Linked DNA regions of Homo sapiens: all the other regions are linked to region 2. The links come from fine-mapping of genetic effects on gene expression. A gene starts in region 2. Each other region holds a variant in brackets. All regions are shown on one strand. Distances are between the middles of the regions. Region 1 has its middle 82 kb from the start of PLCXD2-AS1. Region 2 holds the start of PHLDB2 (pleckstrin homology like domain family B member 2). Region 3 overlaps PHLDB2 (pleckstrin homology like domain family B member 2). Region 4 overlaps LOC105374040 (a long non-coding RNA gene).

What was found. PIP is the estimated chance that this variant, and not a neighbour inherited with it, causes the effect.
Region 1: its variant is the best candidate, but not a certain one, in a credible set for the expression of PHLDB2 in tibial artery (GTEx, PIP 0.57).
Region 3: its variant is the best candidate, but not a certain one, in a credible set for the expression of PHLDB2 in whole blood (TOPMed, PIP 0.58).
Region 4: its variant is the best candidate, but not a certain one, in a credible set for the expression of PHLDB2 in whole blood (TOPMed, PIP 0.77).

What each region holds. Positions count from the first base shown.
Region 1 is chr3:111,755,363-111,762,780 of GRCh38, forward strand. It overlaps a transcript of PHLDB2 not described here. Among named protein-coding and RNA genes, the nearest start is that of PLCXD2-AS1, 82 kb to the left of the region's middle. The variant T/C (reference allele first, on the strand shown) is at 4,128.
Region 2 is chr3:111,855,692-111,863,109 of GRCh38, forward strand. PHLDB2 (pleckstrin homology like domain family B member 2) reads left to right here and starts at 3,574. Exons shown (of 18, transcript NM_001134438.2): 1 at 3,574-3,885. LOC105374040 (a long non-coding RNA gene) reads right to left here and starts at 5,125. Exons shown (of 4, transcript XR_924333.4): 1 at 4,969-5,125. RefSeq lists enhancers at 3,396-3,982, 3,983-4,567, 4,898-5,007 and a silencer at 4,032-4,091.
Region 3 is chr3:111,907,420-111,914,837 of GRCh38, forward strand. It overlaps PHLDB2 (pleckstrin homology like domain family B member 2), which reads left to right. Exons shown (of 18, transcript NM_001134438.2): 3 at 5,900-6,283. Among named protein-coding and RNA genes, the nearest start is that of PHLDB2, 52 kb to the left of the region's middle. The variant G/A (reference allele first, on the strand shown) is at 3,316.
Region 4 is chr3:111,834,863-111,842,280 of GRCh38, forward strand. It overlaps LOC105374040 (a long non-coding RNA gene), which reads right to left. Exons shown (of 4, transcript XR_924333.4): 2 at 861-1,036. It also overlaps a transcript of PHLDB2 not described here. Among named protein-coding and RNA genes, the nearest start is that of PHLDB2, 21 kb to the right of the region's middle. The variant T/C (reference allele first, on the strand shown) is at 2,978.

The DNA.
Region 1 (7,418 bases), 100 kb before region 2:
TCCTGGTTTAGTCTTGGGAGGGTGTATGTGTCGAGGAATTTATCCATTTCTTCTAGATTTTCTAGTTTATTTGCGTAGAGGTGTTTGTAGTATTCTCTGATGGTAGTTTGTATTTCTGTGGGATCGGTGGTGATATCCCCTTTATCATTTTTTATTGCGTCTATTTGATTCTTCTCTCTTTTCTTCTTTATTAGTCTTGCTAGTGGTCTATCAATTTTGTTGATCCTTTCAAAAAACCAGCTCCTGGATTCATTAATTGTTTGAAGGGTTTTTTGTGTCTCTATTTCCTTCAGTTCCGCTCTGATTTTAGTTATTTCTTGCCTTCTGCTAGCTTTTGAATGTGTTTGCTCTTGCTTTTCTAGTTCTTTTAATTGTGATGTTAGGGTGTCAATTTTGGATCTTTCCTGCTTTCTCTTGTGGGCATTTAGTGCTATAAATTTCCCTCTACACACTGCTTTGAATGTGTCCCAGAGATTCTGGTATGTTGTGTCTTTGTTCTCATTGGTTTCAAAGAACATTTTTATTTCTGCCTTCATTTCATTATGTACCCACTAGTCATTCAGGAGCAGGTTGTTCAGTTTCCATGTAGTTGAGTGGTTTTGAGTGAGTTTCTTAATCCTGAGTTCTAGTTTGATTGCGCTGTGGTCTGAGAGACAGTTTGTTATAATTTCTGTTCTTTTACATTTGCTGAGGAGAGCTTTTTACTTCCAACTATGTGGTCAATTTTGGAATAGGTGTGGTGTGGTGCTGAAAAAAATGTATATTCTGTTGATTTGGGGTGGAGAGTTCAGTAGATGTCTATTAGGTCCGCTTGGTGCAGAGCTGAGTTCAATTCCTGGGTATCCTTGTTAACTTTCTGTCTCGTTGATCTGTCTAATGTTGACAGTGGGGTGTTAAAGTCTCCCATTATTATTGTGTGGGAGTCTAAGTCTCTTTGTAGGTCACTCAGGACTTGCTTTATGAATCTGGGTGCTCCTGTATTGGGTGCATATATATTTAGGATAGTTAGCTCTTCTCGTTGAATTGATCCCTTTACCATTATGTAATGGCCTTGTCTCTTTTGATCTTTGTTGGTTTAAAGTCTTTTATCAGAGACTAGGATTGCAACCCCTGCCTTTTTTTGTTTTCCATTTGCTTGGTAGATCTTCCTCCATCCTTTTATTTTGAGCCTATGTGTGTCTCTGCACGTGAGATGGATTTACTGCATACAGCACACTGATGGGTCTTGACTCTTTATCCAATTTGCCAGTCTGTGTCTTTTAATTGGAGCATTTAGTCCATTTACATTTAAAGTTAATATTGTTATGTGTGAATTTGATCCTGTCATTATGATGTTAGCTGGTTATTTTGCTCGTTAGTGGATGCAGTTTCTTCCTAGCCTCGATGGTCTTTACAATTTGGCATGATTTTGCAGTGGCTGGTACCTGTTGTTCCTTTCCATGTTTAGTGCTTCCTTCAGGAGCTCTTTTAGGGCAGGCCTGGTGGTGACAAAATCTCTCAGCATTTGCTTGTCTGTAAAGTATTTTATTTCTCCTTCACTTATGAAGCTTAGTTTGGCTGGATATGAAATTCTGGGTTGAAAATTCTTTTCTTTAAGAATGTTGAATATTGGCCCCCACTCTCTTCTGGCTTGTAGAGTTTCTGGCTAGAGATCCACTGTTAGTCTGATGGGCTTCCCTTTGTGGGTAACCTGACCTTTCTCTCTGGCTGCCCTTAACATTTTTTCCTTCATTTCAACTTTGGTGAATCTGACAATTAAGTGTCTTGGAGTTGCTCTTCTCGAGGAGTATCTTTGTGGAGTTCTCTGTATTTCCTTAATCTGAATGTTGGCCTGCCTTGCTAGACTGGGGAAGTTCTCCTGTATAATATCCTGCAGAGTGTTTTCCAACTTGGTTCCATTCTCCCTGTCACTTTCAGGTACACCAATCAGATGTAGATTTGGTCTTTTCACATAGTCTCATATTTCTGGGAGGCTTTGTTCGTTTCTTTTTATTCTTTTTTCTCTAAACTTCCCTTCTCGCTTCATTTCATTCATTTCATGAATGGAGCTTTCAGCTCCATCAGCTCCTTTAAGCACTTCTCTGTATTGGTTATTCTAGTTACACATTTGTCTAAATTTTTTTCAAAGTTTTCAACTTCTTCGCCTTTGGTTTGAATTTCCTCCTGTAGCTCGGAGTAGTTTGATCGTCTGAAGCCTTCTTCTCTCAACTGGTCAAAGTCATTCTCCATCCAGCTTTGTTCCGTTGCTGGTGAGGAGCTGCGTTCCTCTGGAGGAGGAGAGGCACTCTGCTTTTTAGAGTTTCCAGTTTTTCTGCTCTGTTTTTTCCCCATCTTTGTGGTTTTATCTACTTTTTGTCTTCGATGTTGGTGATGTACAGATGGGTTTTTGGTGTGGATGTCCTTTCTGTTTGTTAGTTTTCCTTCTAACAGACAGGTTAACAGCTGACAACAGGTCTAACAACAGACCTCAGCTGCAGGTCTGTTGGAGTTTGCTAGAAGTCCACTCCAGACACTGTTTGCCTCGGTATCTGCAGCGGTGGCTGCAGAAGAGTGAATTTTCGTGAACCGCGAATGCTGCTGTCTGATCGTTCCTCTGGAAGTTTTGTCTCAGAGGAGTACCCGGCCGTGTGAGGTGTCAGTCTGCCCCTACTGGGGGGTGCCTCCCAGTTAGGCTGCTCAGGGGTCAGGGGCCAGGGACCCACTTGAGGAGGCAGTCTGCCCGTTCTCAGATCTCCAGCTGCGTGCTGGGAGAACCACTGCTCTCTTCAAAGCTGTCAGACAGGGACATTTAACTCTGCAGAGGTTACTGCTGTCTTTTTGTTTGTCTGTGCCCTGCCCCTAGAGGTGGAGCCTATAGAGGCAGGCAGGCCTCCTTGAGCTGTGGTGGGCTCCACCCAGTTCGAGCTTCCCGCCTGCTTTGTTTACCTAAGCAACCCTGGGCAATGGTGGGTGCCCCTCCCCCAGCCTCGCTGCCACCTTGCAGTTTGATCTCAGACTGCTGTGCTAGCAATCAGCAAGACTCTGTGGGCATAGGACCCTCCGAGCCATGTGCGGGATATAATCTCCTGGTGCGCTGTTTTTTAAGCTCGTCGGAAAAGCGCAGTATTAGGGTGGGAGTGACCCGATTTTCCAGGTGCCATCTGTCACCCCTTTCTTTGACTAGGAAAGGGAACTGCCTGGTCCCTTGCACTTCCCGAGTGAGGCAATGCCTCGCCCTGCTTCAGCTGGTGCAGTGTGCGCGCACCCACTGACCTGCGCCCACTGTCTGGCACTCCCTAGTGAGATGAACCCGGTACCTCAGATGGAAATGCAGAAATCACCCATCTTCTGTGTGGCTCACGCTGGGAGCTGCAGACTGGAGCTGTTCCTATTCGGCCATCTTGGCTCGACCACAAAAAAATTTCAAGTGCATCTATTTTGCTGTTAATATAGCTTGAAGAACCCATGGCTTGACATGTTTCATAGGATTGCAGCCATGGGAGGGGTGAGTCATCAACCACGATAAACTCATGAAGATGGTTTTATAAGCTACTAGATGCGGCACAGACAGAGACAACAAGCTATGTTTTGCTAATGGGTCCTATCAATATGGGGCCCAGGCCATCTTTAGCCTATAAGCTTCATCCCAGAAACTAGGAGTCAGTCAGTAGAGTTTACTGTGATATTTTAAGGAAGAAAGGAGAAAAATGACTGCTCTTCAGAGCTGATTAGAGTAAAAATGTAATTATATATGTGCATAAATATCCTAGTGATATATCTTTTTTTTTTTTCAATGATTGTCTTAGTCCACTCAGGCTGTTGTAACAAAATACCATAAACTAGGTAGCTTATGAACAACAGAAACTTATTTCTCACCATTCTGGAGGCTGGAAAGGCCACAATTAAGACACCAGCAGATTTGGTATCAAGTGGGGATCCACTTTCTGGTTCGTAGATGGTGCCTTCTCACTGTGTCCTCACATGGTGGAAGGACAAACTAGCTCTCTGGGGTTTCTTTTGTAAGGGTACCAATCCTATTCATGAGAGTTTCAGCCTTACCCAAAGGCTCCTTCTCCTAATGCTGTCACATTGGTGATTAGGTTTCAATTTATGAATTTTGAGGAGACACCAACATTTAGACCACAACA[T/C]TGAGATTTTATATATATTTACATGTATATATACACACACACATATGTATGTATGTATATCCCGTGTGTGTGTATGCATGCACAGTGAGGAATATATGTTTAGCATGTAAAGTTACTCTTTGCACCAAATGGTTTCAAGACAGCAAAATAATATAACACCTACTAAAGGCCAGGTAATTGGACATTATCCAAATCAGTCATCATGCAACCCTATAAGGTGGAAATTTTTATCCCCAATTTATAAGTGAGCAAACAAATCTCAGATTAAGTAATTTGTCTAAGGGCACACAGCTTACAAGAGATGACGTCAGATTTTGGATTTGAGTTTCTCTCTTTCCAAATTTTTTATTCTTAATCAATAGGCTATAATTGGGTGACAATCAAGAGTTCGTTGGGAATATTGTTGGTTCATAATAGCAACAATATGCAGTTTGTAGGACAAGAGGCTTTAAGGGCAGAGATCTAAATGTATCTGTCAAACAGAGAAAGCCATGTGAAGTTTCTGTGTCTTCATGCCTCTGTATTGGATTCAGGCTGTAGCCACAATACTTATGCAAAAGCATTTCAGGGGAGACATTGCTAGGCAATCTTCACTTCCACTAGGTCAGAGTTTAATGCACATAATACTTCTTGCCTTCATGTGCATGTTGCTAACCCATATTCCTGACTGATATTCTTTCAGTATGTCCACAATGAATTAAAGTTAAGACCAGAGAGCAATATAAAGTGCTGAGCAAAACTCTTTTGAAATTCACAAACATTGTCCATCAGCAGAAACCATGTTTACATTTTTAAAATTCCTATTTTACCTTACGTGGACTGTAAGATGGAATCCAAAGATCCCTCAAACCAAAACTTAGTTTCAATGCATCTTTGTTGAGATAAAAAAAATTGTCCTACTCCAAAGATACTAAATACAGGTCTCATCAATAACCATAGCTTCCATTTTCTGTCAAAGTCAAATAAAATTTTCTACTATTTTTCAATTAGGAAAAGCAGCATTTCAGATAAAAAACTAGGCTTTTGTAACAAACTAGCAAAGTTGGAGTTCTTTTTATTGAAATTTATGTTTACATGGTTATTAAAAGGTTTGTGTTGGACTGCGGGACTCATCTTACTCTGGCTTCTGGGGAGTGAACTAGAAGGCAGAAAACGTGTTCTGTTTTCTTGCTTCTGCGATGTGTATACAGTTTTTTGTTTGTTTTTTTTTTCCTGAGAGCCACGTGGGACTGGTGAGGCTGAGAAGCAAAATTTGAATCAGAGCTTAGATTAAAAAACTGAAGCAATAATTTTCTCCATTTTCAGTTTTAGTTGTTTTATCTTTTGTGATAAATTGTAGGTGAGAAGTTTGGGAGAGGGGCCAGGATGCTACTTAGTTCATTCATAGCACTGCTTGGAACCTTTAGAACTAAGTCGGCCAGGTGTGGTGGCTCACGCCTGTAATCCCAGCACTATGGGAGGCCGAGGCGGGTGGATCACGAGGTCAGGTGATTGAGACCATCCTGGCCAACATGGTGAAACCCCGTCTCTACTAAAAATACAAAAATTATCTGCGCGTGGTGGTGCGTGCTTGTAGTCCCAGCTACTAGGGAGGCTGAGGAAGGAGAATCACCTGAACCCCGGAGGTGGAGGTTGCAGTGAGCTAAGGTGGCACCACTGCACCCCAGCCTAGCGACAGAGTGAGACTCCATCTCAAAAAAAAAAAAAAAGAAAAAAAAAACTAAACACATTTGAATACTAATCCCAGCTTTGTGATCCTCCTATTCCACCTAGAACTACAGTGTTATTCAATTTTTTTGCTTCTGTCATGAAGATAATTTGAAGCTAATCATCCACAATGGGAAATGAGCAAGTGGTTCCAAAAGCAGAAGTGGGTATGGGTACACATGGGAGTGTATAAAGCTCAAAGTCTCCTTATACACGGCATTGATTCAGAAAGGAACTGACACTGTTGATGAAATTTATCACACAAGATGGGACGTGAACAAATCCTTCATCCTAAAAAGGCAGAAACTCAGAAGAGAATGACTAGGGAGAATGAGTCACTAGCAGCTGTTAAGAATCATAGTTAGATCTCTATTCCTGATTTAACTCTCTGCTTTATCTACCCCAGAGGCCAGTCGTTCTCAAACTTCAGCTGCATTCAGATCACTTCAAGGGCTTGTTAAAACAGGATTGCTGATCTACACACCCAGAATTTCTGATTCAGTACATGTGGGTGGGGCAAGAGAATTTTTAGCTCTAACAAGTTCCCAGGTGATGCTGGTCGGGGATACCACACCATAAGACCCACTGCTTTAGGCAATACCGGTTTCAGAATTGAGCCACAGAGGCCATGACTGGTTTATTTACCTGGAAAACCAGCCCAACATTTTTTTTTAATAGCAGAAAAAGCATACAAATTTATTTAATGTGTATACATAAGAAGAATTACAGAGTAATTACCCCCAGCCTGACATTTCCTTAAAATAGGTGCTTGTATGTTCACCTAAAAGGGGCACTGCTAAAAGAGAGGATGAGGGGTCAGAGGAACACATTTTATCCAAAAAGGGATGCCCCCCCAATCCCATCCGCCACATTCAGCTGAGAACCAGACCAGCGTCTTAGCTATTAGTTCATTGCATGGGTTTTGGTGCCAGACTAGACTTAGATTTGAGATCCAAGTCTACTACCTAAGGTGATAAACTTAAGTCAGTCACTTACTTTTCTAAACTGCAGTACTGGAAGGATAACACAATTGATCTCAGAGGACTGTTGTGAAGTTTAAAGAAGATAATGTTTAGGAAGCTTTAACACAATAGCTCATGTATAGTAAGGCCTCAATAAATGCTAACTATATGTATTATTTAATTATATAACTAGCATTACCATATTATTATTATATAGCCAATATGTGTAATGTTTTGACACTGTCAATAAATTTTGAGGTGTTTATCCCATTTTCAGATATTGGAAACTAAGGCACAGAAGGGTTAAGTACCTTGCCCAAGGGCATCCTAGGGAGCGCTCTGAAGTTATGCCTTGTGATGCCACAATTATCATCATTCTAATCACAGGCCTCTAAGTGTGATCTGATCCAGACCTTCCACCCAGCCCTCCCAAGAACCTGGCCACACTCGTCAGGATTAAAGGAGGAGGTATTATTTCTTCAAGCCCTCCTGGAGTCTCTCTTGGCCTTTTTTGGCTCACATACTGCTGTACGTAGTTTGTGTCTGAAATGGAAAATTTCTGTAACACAATACCCAGCTCTGATCCCCACAGACTCTCAAATAATCTTTCTCTTTTTTTTCT
Region 2 (7,418 bases):
AATGGTGCGATCATGGATCACCCAGCCTCGAATTCTCAGGTGATTCTCCCACCTCAGCCTCCTGAGTAGCTGGGACTACAGATGGTGCACCACCATGCCCGGCTAATATTTTTGTATTTTTAGTAGAGACGGGTTTTGCCATGTTGGCCAGGCTGCTCTGGAACTTCTAATCTCAAGCAATCCTGCTACCTCGGCTCCCAAGGTGTTGGGATTACAGGCATGAGCCATTGAGCCTGGACTGAATTTATCTAATTTAAGACTTGCACCTTCAGGGTGGTCTCGTCTATCTTCAGGCTGCTATGGCCTTATGAAAGCTATTGAAAACCACTCTAACTCATCAGGAATGGGAAACTTTGCTGGGTTTAGTCACTTGAAAAAGTCACATTCAATGACTACTTTTTGAGTCCCTTCCATATATAAGTCTTGGAGTATGATTCATACAAATATGAATAAAATGACTCCCTTTGCCTTCTAGGAGCTTGGCTATCCTAAGAGATAGAGATGCTAGCAGATAAAACAAGGCAGTGAAGGGAGGCCAGTGAGGATTACTTTTTGTCTAGTAATTTGGAATTATTCATTATACAGAAATATCCCCTAGTAACATTCATACTTAGAAAAGAGGTAGAAGGTAGCATTAAAGACAATGAACTCAAGAACAAGTGCTCAAATTCTGCCTCTACCAACTTATTACCTGAGTGACAACTGACTTCTCTGTGATTCCTTTTTTACTTATAAAATGGGAGTAGTAACAAACAGTAACTCTCACCGCATCAACTAATATTGTCCTATATTTGGAAGAATACCGGATACGTATACAATAGTAATTATTGCTCTCAATAAATTTAGCTATTTTTTTCTTAGACATAAATATTGGCAATCTAATTATGGCCATTCTAAATGTGCTGTGTTGGTGCACATTCTCCTTAGACCTGAAGGGAGAAAGGTTGTCTCTAAGATGTCTGTGTAGTCAAGTGTATTTCTGGCATTGCTCGAGGCAAGGAAATGTTTGCAACACAGTGCTTTGGGTCAAAGCCATCATTTATTCTTGAGCACCATTTACATGTCCGGTATCCTTGTAGGCACACTAGGGATATAGCACTGGAGAGAACAGGCAAAACTCTCTGCCTGCCTGCCTTACATTCTAGTGAGGAGAGACAGACAATAAACATAATTTAAAAAGTACATTTTACAATATAGTAGAATGTGGTGACTTTGTCAAAAAGTAAATTTAAGTAGTATGGAAAACACATTTTAAACTTTTAAGTAGAGTGGTCAGAGCAGGCCTGAGCAACACGGTGACATTGAACAGGGTCTTGAAGGAAGTGAGGGAGTGAACCATGCAGATACTTGGGAGGAGGGAATTATAGGCAGAGAGGGCAATTAGAACAAAGGCCCTGAGATAGAACGGATTTACCTAGGAATCTAGTCTACGAGGCCACTGTGGCAGGGGCTAAGTGAGTGATAAAGGGGAAGTAGGAGGCTGGGCACAGTGGCTCACACCTGTCATCCCAACACTTAGGGTGGCGGAGGCAGACAGATCGCTTGAGCCCAGGAGTTCAAGAACAGTCTGGGCAATGTGGTGAAACCCCATCTCTGCAAAAAATTCAATATTAGCTGGGCATGGTGGTCTGCACCTGTGGTCCCAGCTATTCAGGAGGCTGAAGTGGGAGGATCACTTGAGCCCAGGAGGTTAAGGCTGCAGTGAGCTATGACTGTGCCATTGCACTCCAACCTGGGTGACAAAGTGAGGCCCTGTCTCAAAAAAAAAAAAAAGAAAAGAAAAGAAAAAAAAATTCCAAGGTAATGGAAATAAAATGATTGTATGTTTATGGGGATGATCCAAAAAAGAGGAGGAAAGAGATGACGTGGGTGAGAAAAGAACATTGCTGGAGCACTTAACTGTTTAACTGTTGGATTGATCAGTGTATGTATGCTTCTGCAGGGCAAAAACTCAGGACAGGGAAAAGAATTCCTCTAAAAAACCCGGCATTCCTAACAAACATATGAAAAAAAGCTCATCATCACTAGTCATTACAGAAATGCAAATCAAAACCACAACGAGATACCATCTCACGCCAGTTAGAATGGCAATCATTAAAAAGTCAGGAAATAACAGACGCTGCAGAGAATGTGGAGAAATGGGAACGCTTTTACACTGTTGGTGGGAGTATAAGTTAGTTCAACCATTGTGGAAGACAGTGTGGCGATTCCTCAGGGATCTAGAACTAGAAATACCATTTGACCCAGCAATCCCATTACTGGGTATATACCCAAAGAATTATAAATCATTCTACTATAAAGACACATACAAACGTATGTTTATTGCAGCACTGTTCACAATAACAAAGACTTGGAACCAACCCAAGTGCCCATCAATGATAGACTGGATGAAGAAAATGTGGCACATATACACCATGGAATACCATGCAGCCATAAAAAAGAATGAATTCATGTCCTTTGCAGGGACGTGGATGATGCTGGAAACCATCATTCTCAGCAAACTAACACAGGAACAGAAAACCAAACACTGCATGTTCTCATCATAAGTGGGAGTTGAACAATGAGAACATATGGACCCAGGGAGGGGAACATCACACCCTGAGGCCTGTTGGGGGGTGGGGGACAAGGGGAGGGAGAGCATTAGGACAAATAACTAATGCATGCGGAGCTTAAAACCTAGATGAAGGGTTGATGGGTGCTGCAAACCACCATGGCACATGTATACCTGTGTAACAAACCTGCACGTTCTGCACATGTATCCCAGAACTTAAAGTATAATTAAAAAAGAAATTTAAAAAAGACATTCCGTAGGTGAGGCTCTCCCTAAAAGTCAAACTTTTACTTGCACATATGAAAAGTGTAATCATTAAATAAGCTATTTCTTCAGTGACGGTATACTGAGTTCTGCTCATGGTGCCAAGTACTTTGCATATATTATTCAGAAGCTTATTAGCTGCCCTGCAGCACCAGTATCATTTATTGCTGCACTCCAGGTGAAGAAATTGTTGCTGGGAGCTACAACAACTTGCCCAAAGCCACAATGATCATAAGTAGTTTGCGCTTCGTTGTGCTCTTCTTTGCTGGTGTGAGATTCTCGAGGGCCAATGTCCTTCATCTGCGTAACTCTAGGGACTCGCCCAGACCTTGGAAGAGGTTCACATTCCCGCGTGCCGAGATTGATTATGGGCCACCCTCGGTCTCATTCGTTGACTTCCAATAAAGCATTGGCTGGTGGACCTCTACATCAGCATTGTTTTCATTGGATATAGCAACTCAGAAAAATATTGGGGAAAATATAAAAACTTTCAAGAGATATGATTGCAAGAAAATCAGAATGAGTTTAAAACCCTCCTGACCCCAGTCCTTAGCTCAGGCCGTTCTCCAAGGATTTTGCAAACCTGCTTTCTGACGCAGCTGGTAAACTTGCCCCGGGGCGAACTGTCGGAAGGAGGTGCGGTCACCTGGAGTTTCCCAATAGATACTTCGCTGTCTGGTGAGGAAATCATCACCCTAGGACGTAAACCCTCCCGCCCTTCTTTCAGCTCTTAAAAAAAGCCTGCCACGAAAGTCCCTACTGCGTTGCTGCGAACGTAGCTTTGAGAAGCTGGCGCCCAGTGATGGGGCAAACAGCCATGCCCTTCCAGCAGCCGTGAAAGCCCCAACAGCAAACTGCCTGGGAGCGGGGCAGGTCACCAACTTCGTTGCTCGAACTCCCTGGGTGCCCGCCGCGGTGGTTACAAAGGGGGTCAAGAGTGCCGGACCCAGCCGCGCGGAGCCCACCATTGCGGCCCGAGGGGGACCCGACGGGGGCCCGACGGTGTGGCGTGGCGCAAGGAGCGCGCCTGCCTTCTCTCGCCGCCGGGAACGGGCTGCACCAATGGCCAGGTGAGGAGGCGGCGGTGGTCGCCCGGGAGGAGGGGGTGGTGCCGACTCCGTGTGCCAGGAGTGCGTCCCGGGGACGCTGCCTCCCCCGCGGCCGAGTTGGTTGCCGCCGGTTGCGCTGCGGAGGGTTGGGGGCGGAGAGGAGGCAGTGGCTGCCCGGGCCGAGGAGGGGCGCGCTGACTGCTCACCGCGAGTCAGGAGGGGCCGGCGGGCTCACGGAGGGAGACAGGGTGGGCGGGGGCAAAGGCTAGGCGCTAGGGCGGCGGCGCCAGCGTAGAGCGGCGGTTTGGAGGAAAGATGAGACGGTGAGTGGGCTCCGGGGACACAGAGTTTCTTTGCTTCTTTACAGGCTGTAGGGACAAAAGCCCGGGCTGGGGTCGGCAGTGCCCAGGCTGCGCAGCTGGGTGGGTGGGGGTGGCGAACCCCGTTGTGCATGACTCTCGGGGGGCTGGGTAGATCTCCGGTTGAGGGGATCCCGGGGAGGGAGTGTCTGGTAGGGAAGATGCTTCCAGAGTGATTGTAGAAAACAGGCAGAATGTGGGGGAACTGGGGGCAACTTTTTCCAGCAACTCTGGAATGCACATGGAGAGAGGGATGGGGATCCTTGGGATAGCTCCCTGAGAAAGAGAAGGTCCGCTGCTGGATGGTGTAGGGCGCGGGATTCAGAGAAGACTCCCTCCCCGCAAATATTTGGCTAGCTGCGCTTCTAGTTCCACTTTCTTTCAAGAGTGAACCTACGAGCTTTAACCGCCAAAAGCGGCTGATTTCGATTTGGCCTTTGACCCCCCACTGAAAGTTTACAGTGTGGCCGTCTCGGCACCCCTAGAGATAGCAGCTGGAAGGCTTGGGGAGTATTTTAACCCTCTGTTTCTCCAGCTCCCTGCGCGGCGGAGGCGCAGCTGAATCGTTTGCTGGTTCGCTTAATAACTTAGCCCTAGCAGTCATCACTTATTAAAGCGCCGAGGACCTGGCTAACTCCCGCCACCACCAGGAAATTAAAAGGCTGACAGGCTGTCCCTCCCAGGGTTGGGGTTTCCTGTTTGAAAGAGCTTGAGAAGTCAAACTGCTTCGCGGTTCCTCACTTACCTTTCTTATGTAAAAGAGGGAGCGACGCCCGCAGCTTTTTCTCTCGGTAAACTACCCGTGGCTGGAAATCCTCCGGGCGCCTGGCCCTGCCCTCTTCCCTAGAAATCTTTATCCTGCAACTCTGAAGTAGCTCTAAAGAGCTCTAGAATGCACAACTAGTCATAGCCAGGCACAGCTGGGAGTGTAACTAGACGAGGCATAAAAATGTGGAGTCTTTTTAGTGTAAATATTTGTCAGCCACATTTCCCTTCGTAATATGAACGTGTAAGTTACAGATGTAGGTTTTCAAGTATTGGACGTGTAATTTTAAGCTTCCTAGTTTGGTTTAATTTGGGCGTTCGAGATATGTCTCTGGGATTCTAACGTTTGAATTCGGCTGGGAGAGATCTAAATGAGGTCCACAGTTTCAGAAGGTTAAACTTTTGCCCTGTGAACACTTGAATTCTTGGTTCCTGGTAGGTTAGCAACAGAACTGTCGGATTTGGGATAAATAAACCGTTAGAGTTGCCCACTATTTTAACAGAATGGCTATATCTCTCTTGCCGTTGCCTTCAATTGTGTAAATATTTGTTTGAATAAAGAGCGAAGGTTCTTTGAAAAGTAACAGTTCTGTCTATTCTTGGCTCCCCTTTCATATCCTCTGCTTAGTTATTTAAAAGGATTTTCTTTGCCTCTTACATTTAATGGGGAAATTTAAACATTACATGTACTTAAATTCTGTAAAGTTACCAAACCATTTATAACTGGCAAATTATTTAATGACAAGGAAGAGTTGAGTTTGTCGTCTTAGTTGGCTAATGTAGCCTTCATCTCTTGAGACCCAGAGGTTTGCAGATCTCAGCCTGTCAGAAGTGGAAAAATGAGATGTCTGGTTAAGAGTAGTCATCATTTCAGTCAATTTGCAGGCCTCAATCTGTTTTATGCAGCTGGCAGCTGCTGTTCTTTTGGTGTTGAGATCGTCTGCCACGAGTGTCGCCTGGATCCCTGTTTGAAAAGGGGAGGAAAAGATACTTGGGAAATTGGACTGAGAGCTTGCTTACTCCTCCGTTCAATAACTGTGACCAAGCTGAAACTCGTTAGCAACCTTTCCAGAAACGTTTTATTTACCATGTGTGTTTGTTGTGTATGCAAGAGAGGAAAAAATAAGCCAAAGTGATTAACCAATCTCTGGTTTTCCCTATTTTCTTCAAAGCTCCATTTTGAGATCTATAAGCAAGGGTTGACTCTCGAGTTCATTGGAGAAGTTACCTCGGCTCACTACAACTTCTGCCTCCTTGGTTCAAGCCATTTTCCTGCCTCAGCCTCCCGAGTAGCTGGGATTACAGGCGCCTGCCACCACACCTGGCTAATTTTTCTATTTTTAGTAGTGACAGGATTTTGCCATGTTGGTCAGGCTGGTCTCAAACTCTTAACCTCAGGTGATCCACCTGCCTTGGCCTCCCAAAGTACTGGGATTACAGGCATGAGCCACCACACCCGGTCTCCTTTTAAATATTTTTAAAGGAGTAGTTAACGTTATGGCTTTATATCCTGATTTTCAACCCTTAGCAGGGAGGCAGTGCTATGGTGCTGTGGATGGCTTAGAGTGACAGTGGCTTTGTACATTTTCTAGGTGGAGTACCTGTGCCTTATGAATCTATCTGTAAAGTCTTGGTGTACCAATTGTTGATTGTGTAAATGTCACTCTTTTGAAACAAAAACACCTAAGTGATGTGCTTTATCTTAAAGTCCTGACATACATTAGAGCTGTGGTTTTCACTGGGAGAGGGGTTTTGGCCCCCAGAGGATACTGGCAACGTATTTTTGGTTGTAGCAACTGACAGGAGGAGAGTGCTACTGCCATATAGTGGGTAGAGGCCTGGGATGCGGTTAAGCACCCTGCCATGCACGGGACACAAAAACAATTATGCAGCCCCAAACCCTGCACTACAGTATTGCCTGGGGGAGTAGGTTAACAAGATTAGGCATCTTAATCTGATTTGGATCCTCAAGAAACTTGTTTAACTGTGTTAAACAAGAGACCCTTATCATAGAAGCCGTTTTGTATGCAGCAGATTCTTTTGTCCTTGCCATTTAGAGTCTTAATATACCATAGAGGTCGAGGAACTTGTGTTCATTGACAACTTTGAGATGGATTAAAGTCATGGGATTTGGGAGCATTAGAGCACAAGGGAGCCTCAGAGATCACTTAATTTCTACCCCTTCTTTTTATAGATGTAAAAAACTGAGACACTCAGAGCTTTAGGACTCATAAGGTCTCAAGCGAGCTAAGGGCGGGCAGACAAAGTTCTAGGTACAACCCAGGAGTTAAAAATTTTAAAATAGAGATTCAGGCAAATGGGAACAAAAAACAAAACACACTGGACCTGACCTTGTGTAAAAGTTTCAAAGCACCATTCCCTGTGAGAAAATAAATAAATGCTTCGATGGGGGAGGGGTGGCATTAGCCA
Region 3 (7,418 bases), 52 kb after region 2:
GCATTGGTAGGTGATAGTGTGCACATGACAGGGAGGCTTACCCAAGCTGTAGTACCCACAGGTTTTTTGTTTGTTTGTTTGTTTGTTTGTTTTTTGAGAGAGAGTCTTGCTTTGTTGCCCAAGTTGGAGTGTAGTAGCACGACTGGGCTCACTGCAACCTTTGCCTCCTGGGTTCAAGCAATTCTCCTTTCTCACCCTCCCAAGTAGCTGGGACTACAGGTGCCCACCACCGCTCCCAGCTGATTTTTGTATTTTTAGTAGATACAGGGTTTAACCATATTAGGCTGGTCTAAAACTCCTGACCTCTGGTGATCCACACGCCTCAACCTTCCAAAGTTTGGGGATTACAGGTGTGAGCCACCGTGGTCAGCTATTTTTTTCTGTTTTGTTTTTTTGAGACAGGGTCTCCCTCTGTCTCTCAGGCTGGAGTGCAGTGGTGCTATATCAGCTCATTGCAACCTCCGCCTCCTGGACTCAAGTGATCCTCCAGCCTTAGCCTTCCAAGTAGCTGAGAATACAGGCATGAGCCACCACGCCCAGGTAATTTTTGCATTTTTTGTAGAGATGGGGTTTTGCCATAGTTTTTATTGAGACTTCATCACATAAGCATTACTGATTGATCAGTTTCCCACATGGTTAATTTCAGTCTCCAGCTTGGCTGATAACCCATGACTTAAGGCTCCCACACTAAATCACATAATTGGTCTTTCTGGAGTGGCCAGCTTATACCCTAAGATTATCACATGTGGCCCACTCTACCCTAAACAAAGACACTGCAGCTGAGTATGACATAGATAATCTCCCAGAAGCCAATGGCAAAGGTCAGACCTCTCTTTGGGCGAAGACAAATTATTTATTACCCAATAAGTAACTGAGCTTTCTTTAGTAGGATCCCTGAGTCCCTCATCTCTAAGTTTTGGAAAAGTGTTCTGCCTGAAATTGCACATGGTTTATTAGTCATAATGTAGAAGTCCATTAGTAAAATTTAAAAAAAACTCCAAGTCTTAAATACAGGTCTGTTTCTTTCTTACACTCCAGGACTAGTGTGGGTTAAAAGAGGCCTCTGCTCCACGTTTCCTGATGGAGCCAACACCTGCAGCCAATCTGGAGAGCCACTCTGCCATGTTAGAGCAAGGCATGTGATGAATTATGCCCTGGCTGTTGTTCATGCAGAAGTGATACACCTTGCTTTTCACACTTCATTGGCCGGTACAAGTCTGAGGGCCATATCCAGTTTGAGGGTGAGGAAGAGAGGAGCCATCTTACCCTGTGTCCAGAAAGAGGTGAACTGATTGTAATAGCCCAGTTACTACCCTCAAGGATTTATCTCTAAAACAGACAGACCCGTATAACAGACTTTGAGCCATTGCTTCTGTTTTCCCTCCTTTCTGTCATTACCTAATTGAAACATCAGGATTTGTACATGGAATCCTGGGAAGTCTGCATACCTGCTGTCAGCACCAGCTTTTCTCATTCTACCACTCACTCAGACCAGGGTTCCTGACTCTTGTGGTTTCCAAAACTTACTTTAGGGCTGTTGTAATCCCTAAGAGGAAGAAATGTGACCCATTTTTGTGCAGGTACCTCATTCCTCTTCCCCCAAAAGACCCCATCTCTCTAGCCACATACTAGTTGCTGATCTCTGAGCATACCATGATATGCCACAGCTCTATGCCTTTGCTTCTGTGGTGCTTTTATGGAAATGCCCTGCCCACCCCACTGTCCCAGTAGAGCAGACAGACTCATATTTATCCTTGAGGACTCAAATTTGTTTTTCTGTAATTTTTGTGTACTGTTTACCCATCTGTGAACTCATAGGTGGTCTATAAACTTCTGTTATCACTGCTTTTATAAGTGATCACCTATTTGTGCCTCCTATTAAAGGTTTGAGGGTAGAAATGCTATGCTTTGCTATGTGCAGTGTCTCATGTGAGAGGCCAAGGTGAGAGGAAGATTGCTTGAGTCCAGGAGCTTGAGACCAGCCTGTGCAACATAGCAAGATGCCATCTTTCTTCCAAAAAATTAAAAAATTAACTGGGCAAGTTTGCATGCCTGGAGTCCCCGCTACTCTGGAGGCTGAGGTGGGAGGATCCCTTGAGCCCAGGAGATCGAGGCTTGCAGTGAGCTATGAGTGCACCACTGTGCTCCAGCCTGGGTGACATTGACAGACTTTGTCTCAGGAAAAAAAGAAAAAAATTTTCATCTTGCCATCTTTTTTCATTTATGGATCCCCAGCACGTTACTAGACAATAAGTAAGTTAGTAGACCTTTGTTGAACTGAAGATTATGGAGACATTGAAGTCCTGGGGCTAATAGAAGAGAGAAGTCAAGTCACACCAGTTATAATAGGTCCTCCTAAAAAAAAAAAAAATCCCATTTCAACTAAATTATATCTAAAAATTAAAGGTTGACCTTTTGTTTTAAGTAATACATGACCCAATATACTGGTTATAACAAAAGGTTTTTAGCAAAGATTACACCTGTGCTTAAGTGTCAGCAGTTGGTTTTCTGCATAATGTATGTATTTATGCAGTATGTGTACCGTCCTGTGACCTACACTGGTTGGTGTTAGTTACAAGGGCCCTTGGATGGGTTTAGGAGATGGATGTACCCTCTCCTGAGGGCTGTGAATCTGCAGTGGGAACAATGTCAGACACAGTCCTCTGAAGATGGAAAAAAGCTCAGAGGTCAAAAAACATACCCCTAGCCCATCACCATTTTTTCCCCTTTAACCTCTAAGTGAAAAATTGCACACAATTTTCTTTACGTATACTTTCTAAAATCTTGTGTCTCCTTCAACACTTCCTTTGATATATGTGGGAGATCAAGATGAAGAAAAGGAGAAATGGGAATGGCGAAAAAAATAAAAAATATATGTAAAATAATTTTATTCAAGATGACCTACTTTCTAAATTCTTAGCACTGATATTTTGGAGCATTAAGGTATGTAGGCTCTGTACTTGGACTTTTCAAGAGAATGAACACTAGATTCCTAGTTTGGAAAGGTGGGTAGGATTTGGAAATCTCAGAGGGCAGCCAGCCTCTTGACTTATTAAATAGCAGGTTGTTAGGTGAAGCTTCAAAGAAAGTTTGGTTTTAAGTAGGGGGACAGACATCACAGTTTGCCAGGACCAACCCCAGTTTGCATTTGAGGTTCCAGCATAATTATTAACAGTGCCCTCTTTGATTCTTGAGAGGTTCTGGTCTGGAATGGTCATTCTGGATTTGGGTCATGCAGGTTGCAGGCTATTGGCATGATGAATGGGAAGGAAGAAGACTCCAGAGTGCAGAAGGCTGAAGGGAGAATTATCTTAT[G/A]ACAGTAATTTCTGTTCAGAGTTTTCCTTAAAAGGCTTCCTGTAGTGCTTTCTGAAATGCCTTACAGACTTTCTTCTGATGCACCTTGGACATCAGTTTATTTTTCTTTAGTGCAGCTTTTATAGGGCCAGTGTGTCTCAGTGCAACCTGGTTTTCTTTTAAACTCGTGGGCAGCAGTGCTGCATGTGTCAGTGATTCAAACTTGAACAGATTGGCTGTGAATGGGGTGATAAGAATAGAGAGAAACACATACCAGTAGACCAAACTTCCTGTTCACAAGCCTTTGAATACTGCGTTTCACTGTCTGAAATAGCATTCATCTTAAGGCTGGGATCATTTATTCCCTTTGGAATTAAGCAATACCACTGCAGAAAAAGAAACTATTTTGGGAAGGCCATGTGGGAGGAATTTTTCTCTGTATTCCAGGCTGAACAGAAATATCTTTCATGCTTTTGAACACCACACCTTAGAGCCCAGGTAATTGGAAATGGACAACTTTCAGATAATCCCAAATATTTATGCCAAGGCTAATGTATACATGTTATACTACAAAGATTAGGAAAGACTTGAGTTTAGATGCTTCAACTTAATTACCTAAGTGGCAGAAAAAGAACTTTCCTTCAGAGATTCGCCTCTAATATAGATGCTATTGAGAAGTAAAATGTAACATCTTGTCCCTCTCCCTCTCCTTACATATGCTCTTGGAGGTTGTTTTTGCATATGCCCATGTAGACTTTTCCAGATTGTTGGAGAAGTTTAAAATAAGGCAATGAAGGCTATGTCCCCCCTGCTTCCTCCCTATAAAGCTGAGGTGGGCAGGGCTTGGCAGCTGGTGGAAACTGAAGAGATAAATAAGTACCAGGGCTCCTGGATGGATAGGGTGCAGAAGAGCCCAAGATGAGAGTGTGTAGCTATGAGTGCCTGCCGTGGGAAGAGGCCATGAGGACGGAGCTGCAGCTGGAGTCCAGAAGTTCAGGCAGTGAAAGGGAGGTGCGAGCTTGTAGGAACTAGTTTATTAGTCCTTTTGATCAAGCTATTGCTCTTTTGTTTTTTTTGTTGGGGGATTACTTTAGAGGGCAAATGTAAGTCAGATACACCTTAAATATCTGTCTTGTCATTTGAGTAATGTATTTAATGGAACCTAAGGAGTTATGTTGGTCTGTTCCTATTTGACTTTTCTACTTGTTAATAGCATCAACTAATAAAGAGCTAATTGTCTTGTAAAGTTTGTCTTTACAAATTAGCTGCAATTGAAATGAGAACAGCAGTCCAGTGATGCTTAATATTTTTCTGCTTTATTGCTGATAAGCAGTTTGGAAAATGTTTTTCTATGGAGAGCGTGTGAAGCCTCTTCTCAGTGTGGTAAATGTGATCACAATAGATGGTTTTTGTTTTTAGTTCTTTTTTCACTTTGGCCTTGGAATTAACATGAAAGGTAAAGATGTTGAGATTTCCTACCTCAAGCAATGCTGTCTAGGTTTATGAGAAGCAGAGAAGCATTTTGTAAATTATATCCTGTTGCTCACAAACTGTATAATTAACCTACTTAAAGTTCAAAATCATAGATATCTGCCTGTTGCATGGGGAGTCTGGTAAGATTGCAGTACTCTTATAGATATCAATGGCCTATGTATTGATTTTTAACAAATAAATTTTATTTTCTAGCTAAATTAATCAAAGATTTAATGACCTATGAATTTGAGTTACATCGGTGTGTATCTGGACTTCATGTGAAATGTTCTTCATTTTAGTGCAACATTCTATCTCTTTTATAATTTTAATTATATAAGAAATTAGTAGAGAAAGACCTTTATATGGTGACCAGGCATTAAAAAGTTTAGAAAATTTTCAAAATTTTCAAGAAAAAAAAATTGAAGACATAGGTCTTTTAAATTAAAAGATTCAGTAAGTAGCTGTTTTTCTCTTTGTGTGTCTAGCACATAGTCTAACAGTAGGATAATATTTAGGAAGTTAGAGAATTAGTTTTAAGCACAAGTATTAAGTCAGTAGTGATGAAAAAGCTAGATATTGTTGAAGGTAGATAAGTAGAGCCTGGGAAGGAGGATAGATAGGAAATGGAGGTTTAAAAAAAATGAATTTGGTGCAATGGCATGTGCCTGTAATCTCAGCAACTTTTGGGAGGCTGAGGCAGGAGGATCACTGGACCCCAGGAGTTAAATAAAGTGAGCTATGATTGTGCCACTGCACTCCAGCCTTTGGGACAGAGTAAGACCTTGTCTTTCTCCCTAACCCCACCCTTCAGAAACCTTGGAGAATTTATAAGTTATGAAAAGGCTTACTGAGTGCTGATGTGTGCTAGGGCCAGCCCTGTGATATACCAATAAAGGGGAGAGAGTAGAAGCCAGAATTGAGTTTGGGAGGAAAGTTGGGCATTGTTAAACCCCATTTCACCTGGATCTTTAAATGCATCCGTCAAAGATTATGAAAATCATCACCAGCCAAGTGTTTGTGGGTTTATGTATGGAATGCAAGCACCAGTTGTCCCAGCCTCTTCAGTCTTTTTATTTGGAGTAGTATTCATTCTCACAAACCCACTGACCTCCCCCTCCTCCCTGTGTTCCAGGAGAGACAGCGTCTGGAGACCATCCTCAGTCTCTGTGCTGAATACACAAAGCCTGACAGTCGCTTATCTACTGGGACCACCGTGGAAGATGTGCAGAAAATCAACAAGGAGCTTGAGAAGCTGCAGCTCTCTGATGAGGAGTCTGTGTTTGAGGAAGCCCTCATGAGCCCTGACACAAGATACAGGTGCCACCGGAAAGACTCCCTCCCTGATGCAGACTTGGCAAGCTGTGGGAGTCTCAGTCAGAGCAGTGCCAGCTTCTTTACCCCCAGGAGCACCAGGAATGATGAACTACTCAGTGACCTCACCCGGACTCCTCCACCACCATCCTCCACCTTTCCGAAAGCTTCCAGCGAGTCCTCTTATCTAAGTATCCTACCAAAGGTAATGTTGGCCCAGCAAAGATACTAGGATTTAAGGTCTAGGGCTGTGCATATGCTTTGGCATGAAAACTGATGATTTTATCATGCTAATTATCCAGGATGTTTTCAGTGAAATTTCAATTTAAGAGGTCATTAGCTGAGCGAGGTGCAGCAAATTAGGGTGTTTACTGTAAAGTAACAAATTTGCACTGTAAAAATTGTAGCAGCACAGAAGAGTAGAAAGAAAGCACATTTCTCTTCTCCCTGCACCCTTTCAGGTTGTACACCTGAGTGATAAGCAGGTGTAAAACTGGTGCTAAAATTGTCTTACCTGCCTTCCTAATATTTTCTGTGTATATATGGCTATCTGTTATAGGCATAGACAGACAGACACACACATAGTGTTCTGTACTTTTTTTCCCTCACTAAATGCCTTGGGTATCTTTGCATATTAGTATACATAGCTCTACCTCATTCTTTTTAATGACCAATTGCTCTTCTTTTGTTTGCAACTACCGTTTATTTTCAGGGTTTTTTTTTTTTTGCTAATAAAATCCATATGCGCAAATATTGTAGCATATATATATTTGCACAATTCTGCAAATGTGTCTGTGGGATCACTTACTAAAAGTGGAATTGCTGGGTCAAAGAGTTTGTGTATTTTTCACTTTACTCAATATTTCCAAATCGTACTTCTAAAAGACCATATTAAAAAAAGAGTCTATATATCCAGGTGACACTTTGACTAAGTTTATATGTGCATATAAACACAAGTGTTCTCCATACACTTGCCAAGGTTGCATATTGTCAAAATTTTTCAATTAGCCAAATTGATAGAAGTTTAATTTGCTTTTCTTTAATTATACATCAAGTTGGGGATCTTTCCATATTTTTAGTTATTATTTGTATTTTTTGACCCACTTATTCATGTTCTTCACCCATTTTTTTAATTGTTTTATTTTTCTTGTGTTTTACTGAGTAGTAAGAGCTGTTTGTGGTAAGCAGATGAGCCTTTTATCATAACTAGTCTTTATTTTGACTTTATTTGTATTTTTTCGGCATATAGGAGTTTAAGATTTATTGGTACTCATAAGTACTATTTAGTCTTCTGGTTGTATGTTGGTTTAAAATTGTCATCCTTTTGAGGATTTGTTAAA
Region 4 (7,418 bases), 21 kb before region 2:
CCTAACATTCTTGGACACTGACTTTAGCTTCGGAACTGGTTTTTATATATCCTTTCTACACATTATTGCCATAGTAATCTTCTCAAACCTTGCCTTATGCATATCACACCTTTGTAATTTTCCATGAGTCCCTAATGCCTAAAAAAGGAACCTTAACTATGCTTCAAGATCCCTCACAATCAGGCTACAATCCTTCTCATTTTGTCCCAAAATTTAAGAGAGAATGAGAGAGAGATTTACCATGAGCCTCTCATTCTTAGGCACTTGCACATGCCTTAAATATTTAATCCTTATATCAGTTTCAGAGTTTAATGATATTTTTATTACCATAAAAATATAGAAACTGATGGATTGGGGAAGAAACTTGCTTCCCATCACACAGCTGTAGCATCTAGAGCTGTGGTTTGTGTAGTATATCTGACTGCTAAGGTCATGTACTTAACTATCAAGCCATATTTCAACTCAATTTAGCAAATATTTATTCAACATATACTACATGCAAAGTACTTTATTAAGTGTTACAGAGATTTAAAAATGTGAAACGGATGGCACACAATTGACACTTAATAATGGTGCCTGCTTCCCCAGCAGCAGCTCCTTCCAGGTAGCTATACTTTATGCCATGTGACTCTGCCTCTGTCAATAGCTGGTGAAAATAATGGTAGGCACCTGTTCCCACTGTCGATTGCAGTGTAACAGACACCCCAAAACTCAGCGGCTTAAAACAATGACAGTATTTATGCTGCTCCAACTCTGCAATTTAGCTAAGGTTCAGAGAGAACATCTTGTCTCTGCTTCACTCAGCATCAGCTGGGGACACGAAAAGGATAGGACTAGGAATCATCTGAAATCTTACTCACTTGTCTGGAGGTTGGTGCTTGCTGTCAGCTGGGTCCTCAGCAGGAGCTGTCACCAGGAACACCTTACATAGTGACCCCATGTAGTCTTTCCTCTTCCTCACGACTCAGGGCCTAGGTTCCAAGGGCTAGCTTCTCCGAAGGGCCAGGAAGAAGTTGTCTGCCTTTTAGAGCTTAGCCTTGAAAAGCACATAGCATAGCATCACTTCCACTAGTATTTACAGGCCCATCCAGATCCAAGGGGAGAAATGTAGACCCCACCTCATGATGGAGGGCTGCCAATGTCACATGGTGGCATGAGCATGTAAGCCAGTGGGGCCATTTTTGTAATACAATCTGCCACAGCACCTACAGACATGCCAATGTCCTTTCAGAGAAAGATAATCCAACAACCAAATTCTTTTTCAATGATATGACTTAAGAACAACTTACAGAATAAAACAGCTGCTGGAGACTAATCTGAAAGGACAAAATGCAGAAAGAGAAGAAAGTGGCCATGATGAAGCATGTGTTCACTGAAGTTATGAGCCAAACGGAAGTCAGGAATAAGAAGCCCTGTTCACCTTTAAGTCCCCAACAGAGCACAGTGCCAAATGCATGGTAAGTGCTCACAGTTGTCATATGAAGAAATTCATGAATGCTGGAAAGAGGGAAAACAAAAGGAAGGGTAAGTTTGGAAAGGGAAGATGAGATTCTACAGAGATATGTTAAGTTTGAGAATCCAGTTCTAGCTCCTCACTGACGTGTCTAACAAGCAGTTAGGGATGTAGATCTGTAGCTCAGAAGAGAGAGCAAGCATTAGGGACAGGGCTTAGGAAGCCATGAACAAGGGAAGCTTTGGCTTTGAATAAGATTACCAAAGAATCTCGTATTAGTCCATTTTCACATGCTATAAAGAACCACCGGAGTCTGGGCAATTTATAAAGGAAAAAGATTTAATTGACTTACAGTTCCACATGGCTGAGGAGGCCTCAGGGACCTTACAATTGTGGCAAAAAGTGAAGGGGAAGCAAGGCACATCTTACATGGTGACAGGAGGTGAGGGGGACTGCCAAAAACTTTTAAACCATCAGACCTCATGAAAACTTACTATCAGGAGAACAGCAAGAGTGGACCACCCCGATGATCCAATCATCTCCCACCAGGTCCCTCCCTTGACACATGGGGATGACAATTCGAGATGAGATTTGGGTGGGACACAGAGCCAAACCATATCAAATCTACATTATTCAGGTGGAATAATGAAGTGGTTAACATTATAGACTTTGAATCTGAGAACCTGGATTTAGTGTCTGTAATACCTGCTTCACCACTTACTGTGAGTTTTCTTAGGTTTAGTTGTTTAATATCTCTGTACCTCAGTATCCTGTTATAACATTGTTATAGTAATGAAACTACCTCAGAGGGCTGTGTATTAAGGGGTATAATGCCTGCAAAGTGCTTAGAACACAGTCTGCATAGAGTAAGAAATCAGTGCACATTTGTTACCATAACTGTTATCGGTTTTTAAAAAATATCTAAAGTTTAGGAATGAACAGAGGAAGAGCCAGAGAATACTAGGCAGGAAGTTCTTACGCAACCTTGTACAATATTCCTTATAAAAGTTTGAAGTTACATTCATTCCTGAGTTGCCTAACATCAAACAGTTGATCTATTAATAAAGAGGGGGTGGCATGGAGAAGAGTGTGTTCTATATCAATCTCTCTCAAAGTCGTGCTCTTTGGGGTGCATAGTAATTTCTGTTGTGTCAAAAAAAGTGTGTGCTGTACTCAAATAAATCTGAGAAATGCTGGATTACACAAAATTAAGTAGATGTTTCCTCAGACCCTATACTAAATGCATATACTAATATGTCCCATGGCTTGCTAAGGAGGGGCTATAGAATGCATCATTTCCAAAACTCCTTAGTTTTTTTATGGGATCATTCTGTTAAACTGACATTCTGTGGGACACAATTTCTCAAAGCTAATCAAGGTTAGTATTAAGCTTACTACAGAAGACTTTCTTTGGAAACTTCTTACAAATACATATTACTGAACCTGGCCGGGCACGGTGGTTCACACCTGTAATTTCAGGACTGTGGAAGGCCAAGGCAGGAGGATAACTTGAAGCCAGGAGTT[T/C]GAGACCAGCCTGGTCAACATGGCAAAATCTCTTCTCTACTACAAATACAAAAATTAGCCAGGCATAGTGATGCACGCCTGTAATCTCAGCTACTCGGGAACTGCAGCATGAGAATCACTTGAACCCGGGAGGTGGAGGTTGCAGTAAGCTGAGATCGTCCCACCGCACTCCAGCCTGGGTGACAGAGGGAGACTCTGTCTCAAAAATAACAACAACAACAACAACAACAACAAACACACATTACTGAACCTACCAACACAGATTCTGATTCAGAAAGTCTAGAGTGCGGGTAAGGTACCTGTAATTTTATTTTTATTTATGTATTTGTTTGCATGTTTGTTTTAGAGACAGGTTCTCGCTATGTTGCCCAGGCTTGTCGCAAACTCCTGGGCTCAAGCAGTCTTCCCGCCTTTATCTCCTGATCGGCTGGGACTATAGGCACCTGCCACCACTCCTACCCAGGAACCTGTATGTTTAAAAAGTTCCTCAGTACGCTCTTGCCTCTGGCAACCTAGAAGAGGAATTTGACCCTGCCCACAATCCCTCTTTCCCTTTCCAAACTGTTCTCAGAAAAGCAGCTCTACAAGAATGATAGCAAATCCAATAATGTATCTGGGTTGATTTCCCAGAAATTCATCAAACCAGCACAGCATGGAAGTTACTTATATACCTATTATACTTTCAGAACCCTTCAGACAGTCAACATGGATGAAGGCTAATAATTTGATTACCATAAAAATATAACTAGGAAAAAATAGTTGTAGGCTTTACATATAAAGAAATTTGAACTACAGCCCCACAGAATTAGTGACAATCTGAATTTCCAACAGAACTTTGAGGCAGAGTCAGATTAGAATATTTTTTAAAACTTGCTTAGAATTAATATCTAACAAAATGAGGATAGTTGTGTTCTCGGTATTATCTGTTTAAAATTTAATCTAAGAATAGACTCTGAGATTTTCTTGAAGAGCAGTTAGTGCTGAGCATATACTGACCTAAGAACAGATACACTTCTAAATCTAATTTAGGAGAATCATTTTGGAAATAAGACAATTTTTTTCTTGTGAACATTCTATCTAGGAAGAATTCAGCAGAATGAATATTCATCATTTAACATATTTCTATTTTTATAGTCTGCTTCAAAACTTTTATAGTAAAAATAAGATAAAAGTATAGAATCACTTCCAGATTTCTCTACACACTCAAGCAATTATTCATTTTATATGTCTGGCAGGATGGGTTTGATTGTGGTCACCCTCTTTGTCTCTTCCATTACCCCTGGTACTGAGAGGGTGCAAGTGAGGATAAATTAGCCAAGAGGCCACCCACACTGAGCTCTTCCAGACTGAAACAAACAAACAAACAAACAAAAACATTAGAGTCAGAAAAACTAAATATAACACATGTTCCTAGATTGCATTCTATAAAGAATATTATTGGGATAATTAACTAACTTGAACAGAGTTTGTGAATTTAATGTTAGTGTCAATGACAATGTCCTGATTTTGATTCTTGTGTATTGGTTATCTGAAAAATGCCCTTCTTGGAAGAGTTACACATTATTCAACAGTGATGCGCTCTCTGTTCACAATGTACTCTCAAGTAGCTCCAGAAAAAAAATGTTCTTTGTGCTATTCTTGCAGCTTTTAACATTTGAAGTTATTTTAAAATTAACATTATCTTTAGCATTTTAAAAAGATAAAGTTGATTTTATGGCCTGTGAGTTTATCATTGATTTTCTCAGATTCTCTGGGTAAACTATATCAACTGTAAATAGTTTTATTTCTTCTTTTCCATTTCCTGTGAATCGATTTTTTTCTTTTTTAATTGTGTTGGTTATAATCTCTAGGAAAAAAATGTTCAATAGATGGAGAGAGAGTAAGCATCCTTACCTTTTTGTAATCTCAGTGGAAATACCTCTAGTATTTTCTGACTAAACATAACACCGGCTTTAGGACCGAGGTATAGAAAAATATGCATTATCATTTCTCAGCCTTATGGCTAAGATCAAGTGTAGAAAATATGCCTCAATTTCTATTTTCTTGAGTGTTTTTATCAGGAATAGGAATTGAGTTTTGTTTAAAAGCCCCCCACCCCCGCTTTTTTTTTTTTTTTTTTTTTTTTGCGCCAAGTGTGGTGGCTCATGCCTGTAATCCCAGCACTTCGGGAGGCTGAGGCAGCAGAATTGCTTGAGACAAGGAGTTTAAGACCAACCTAGGCAAAATAGTGAGGCCCCATTTCTAACAAATCAAAATAAAAATATTAGCCAGGTAGAGTGGTACATGCCTGTAGTCCTACCTGCTTGGAAGACTGAGGCAGAAGAATTGCTTGAGCCCAGGAGGTTGAGGCTGCAATGAGCTATGATTGCACCACTGCACTCCAGCCTGGGTGACAGTGAGACCCTGTCTCCAAAAAAAATTTGTTTAATAAAATAAAATTAAAAGAATTTTAAAAAGCCTTTTCCCCAACTGAGGATAATATACAATTAATCTTCTTATATCTACTAATATAGTATTTAAATTAATAGATTTCCTCATATTGAATCATCCTTGCATTCCAGAAATAAATCCTACCTGGTCATGGTATATTTTCTTAATGTGGTGTTTGGATTCTGTTTTCTAATATTTACTCTAGCATTTTTGCATTGATATTGGATAATGGCTTGTAGTCTTGTTTACACATTAGAGTCATTTTCCTCCATACCACTTTTAGGAGAACAGTTTCCATGAAAGGGAGCTTGATGATAACAGAAAAGATAAAGAGACAATCTAACACAGAAATAGACCTGTCTTAGGGCCACATAAATTAAGGGGAGGTTGCTGACTCCTCTCTTACTGACTAGGTGACCTTAGAGAAGTTATTCCTCCTCTTCTGCCCTCAATTTTCTTGCCTATCAATTAGACGAACCTACTCAAAAGATTGTGTGAGAATAAAATGACAAGATGTCTATACAGACTTCAGTACAATGCCTGACACAATGTAAGCTCACGTAAACACTGGTATACCCTATTTTATTAAAAAGAACTACTTTTCTTCTACTGCCTCTCACATTATAATAATGCATAAAGACATATGTGGACAGATGTCATAGTTTCATCAGCAGGCAGATAGTCCCCAATACCATTTTGTCATGATTACCAGGCCACAGAGGAGTTTAGGCAGCTAATCTAGGGAGCTAGGTTTGTATTTTTTCTCTTCTTTTATAGTTACTCCATTCCAGACTAGAAGTTTGAATTTATAATTTTATTTAATTAATTAATTTTGTGTATTTATTTTTGAGACGGAGTCTCACTCTGTCGCCCAGGCTGGAGTGCAATGGCGTGATCTTGGCTCACTGCAACCTCTGCCTCCCAGGTTAAAGCGATTCTCATCCCTCAGCCTCCTGAGTAGCTGGGACTACAGGCACCCGCCATCACACCCAGCTAATTTTTAGCTGTATTTTTAGTAGAGAAGGGGTTTGAATTTAAACAGTGAGCTTTTCATGGTTATTGAGTAGGAGTAGGAGGAGGGGGGAACTGTAAAGGAATGAAAAAGGAAGAGGAAACTTCTTGAACCCCTCCTACATACCAGGAACTAATTTAGGTATATCTGCAGTTATTATGTGAGGAAAGGTGGAAGGTTGCATCAAGATTGTAGAACTCCAGAACCACCTTGACAGGTGAATGAGTATGGGCATTGTCTCTCTATCTAACAGTTGAGATCAACTTTTGTTCTTTTCTTCTCACTCATAACCTCTTCAAATAGAATAAAGAGATGCGTTTTCTCTGGGTTGGGCTCTCAGTTACTCTGGCTGTAAGTGCTCTGAACATCAGGAAATCACTCTGTACAGGGTGTCAGCTGGGCTTCTAAGACTCCTGCGTGTGGAGGAGTTAAGGAGAGTGAACATTTATCAATACATTTATTCCACAACATTTTTATTATGAATGTGTTGATTCTGCAACTCTTCATTAGACTGTAGAGGTAGAAATGCTGTCTACCACTCTAAGACTGATAGACCTAGAGCACTGTAGGAATGCCCTGGAAAAAGAAATTGGCCTGAAGATGTTGGCATTTGTGCGGAACCTAGAAAGTCAGAGTTAGAAAGCAAAGCAAAGCTTGTGGGAGACAGCACAGTACATGTATTAAGGAACAGACTCACACAGATCTAGGTCTGCATTTTGTCTTCCTATCTTTCTTACTATTGACTTTGGACAAGTTCTTTATTTTTCTCAGCTTTAATTGCATTTCTGTAAATTTAGGGAAAAGTACCTTATAGGGTTATAGTGAAGTTATAAAGGAGATAATGTAGGTAAAACACTTAGCACAGTACCTGGCTTATAACTGCTCAAATATAATGGCCATTATTATTATCTGGTCTTTAGCAGTGTTCACTTCTTGCCTCCATCAACAATCTTTTCCTTAGACTTTAAGCTTCTGCTTTTTTTTCTTTAAAGACTATTT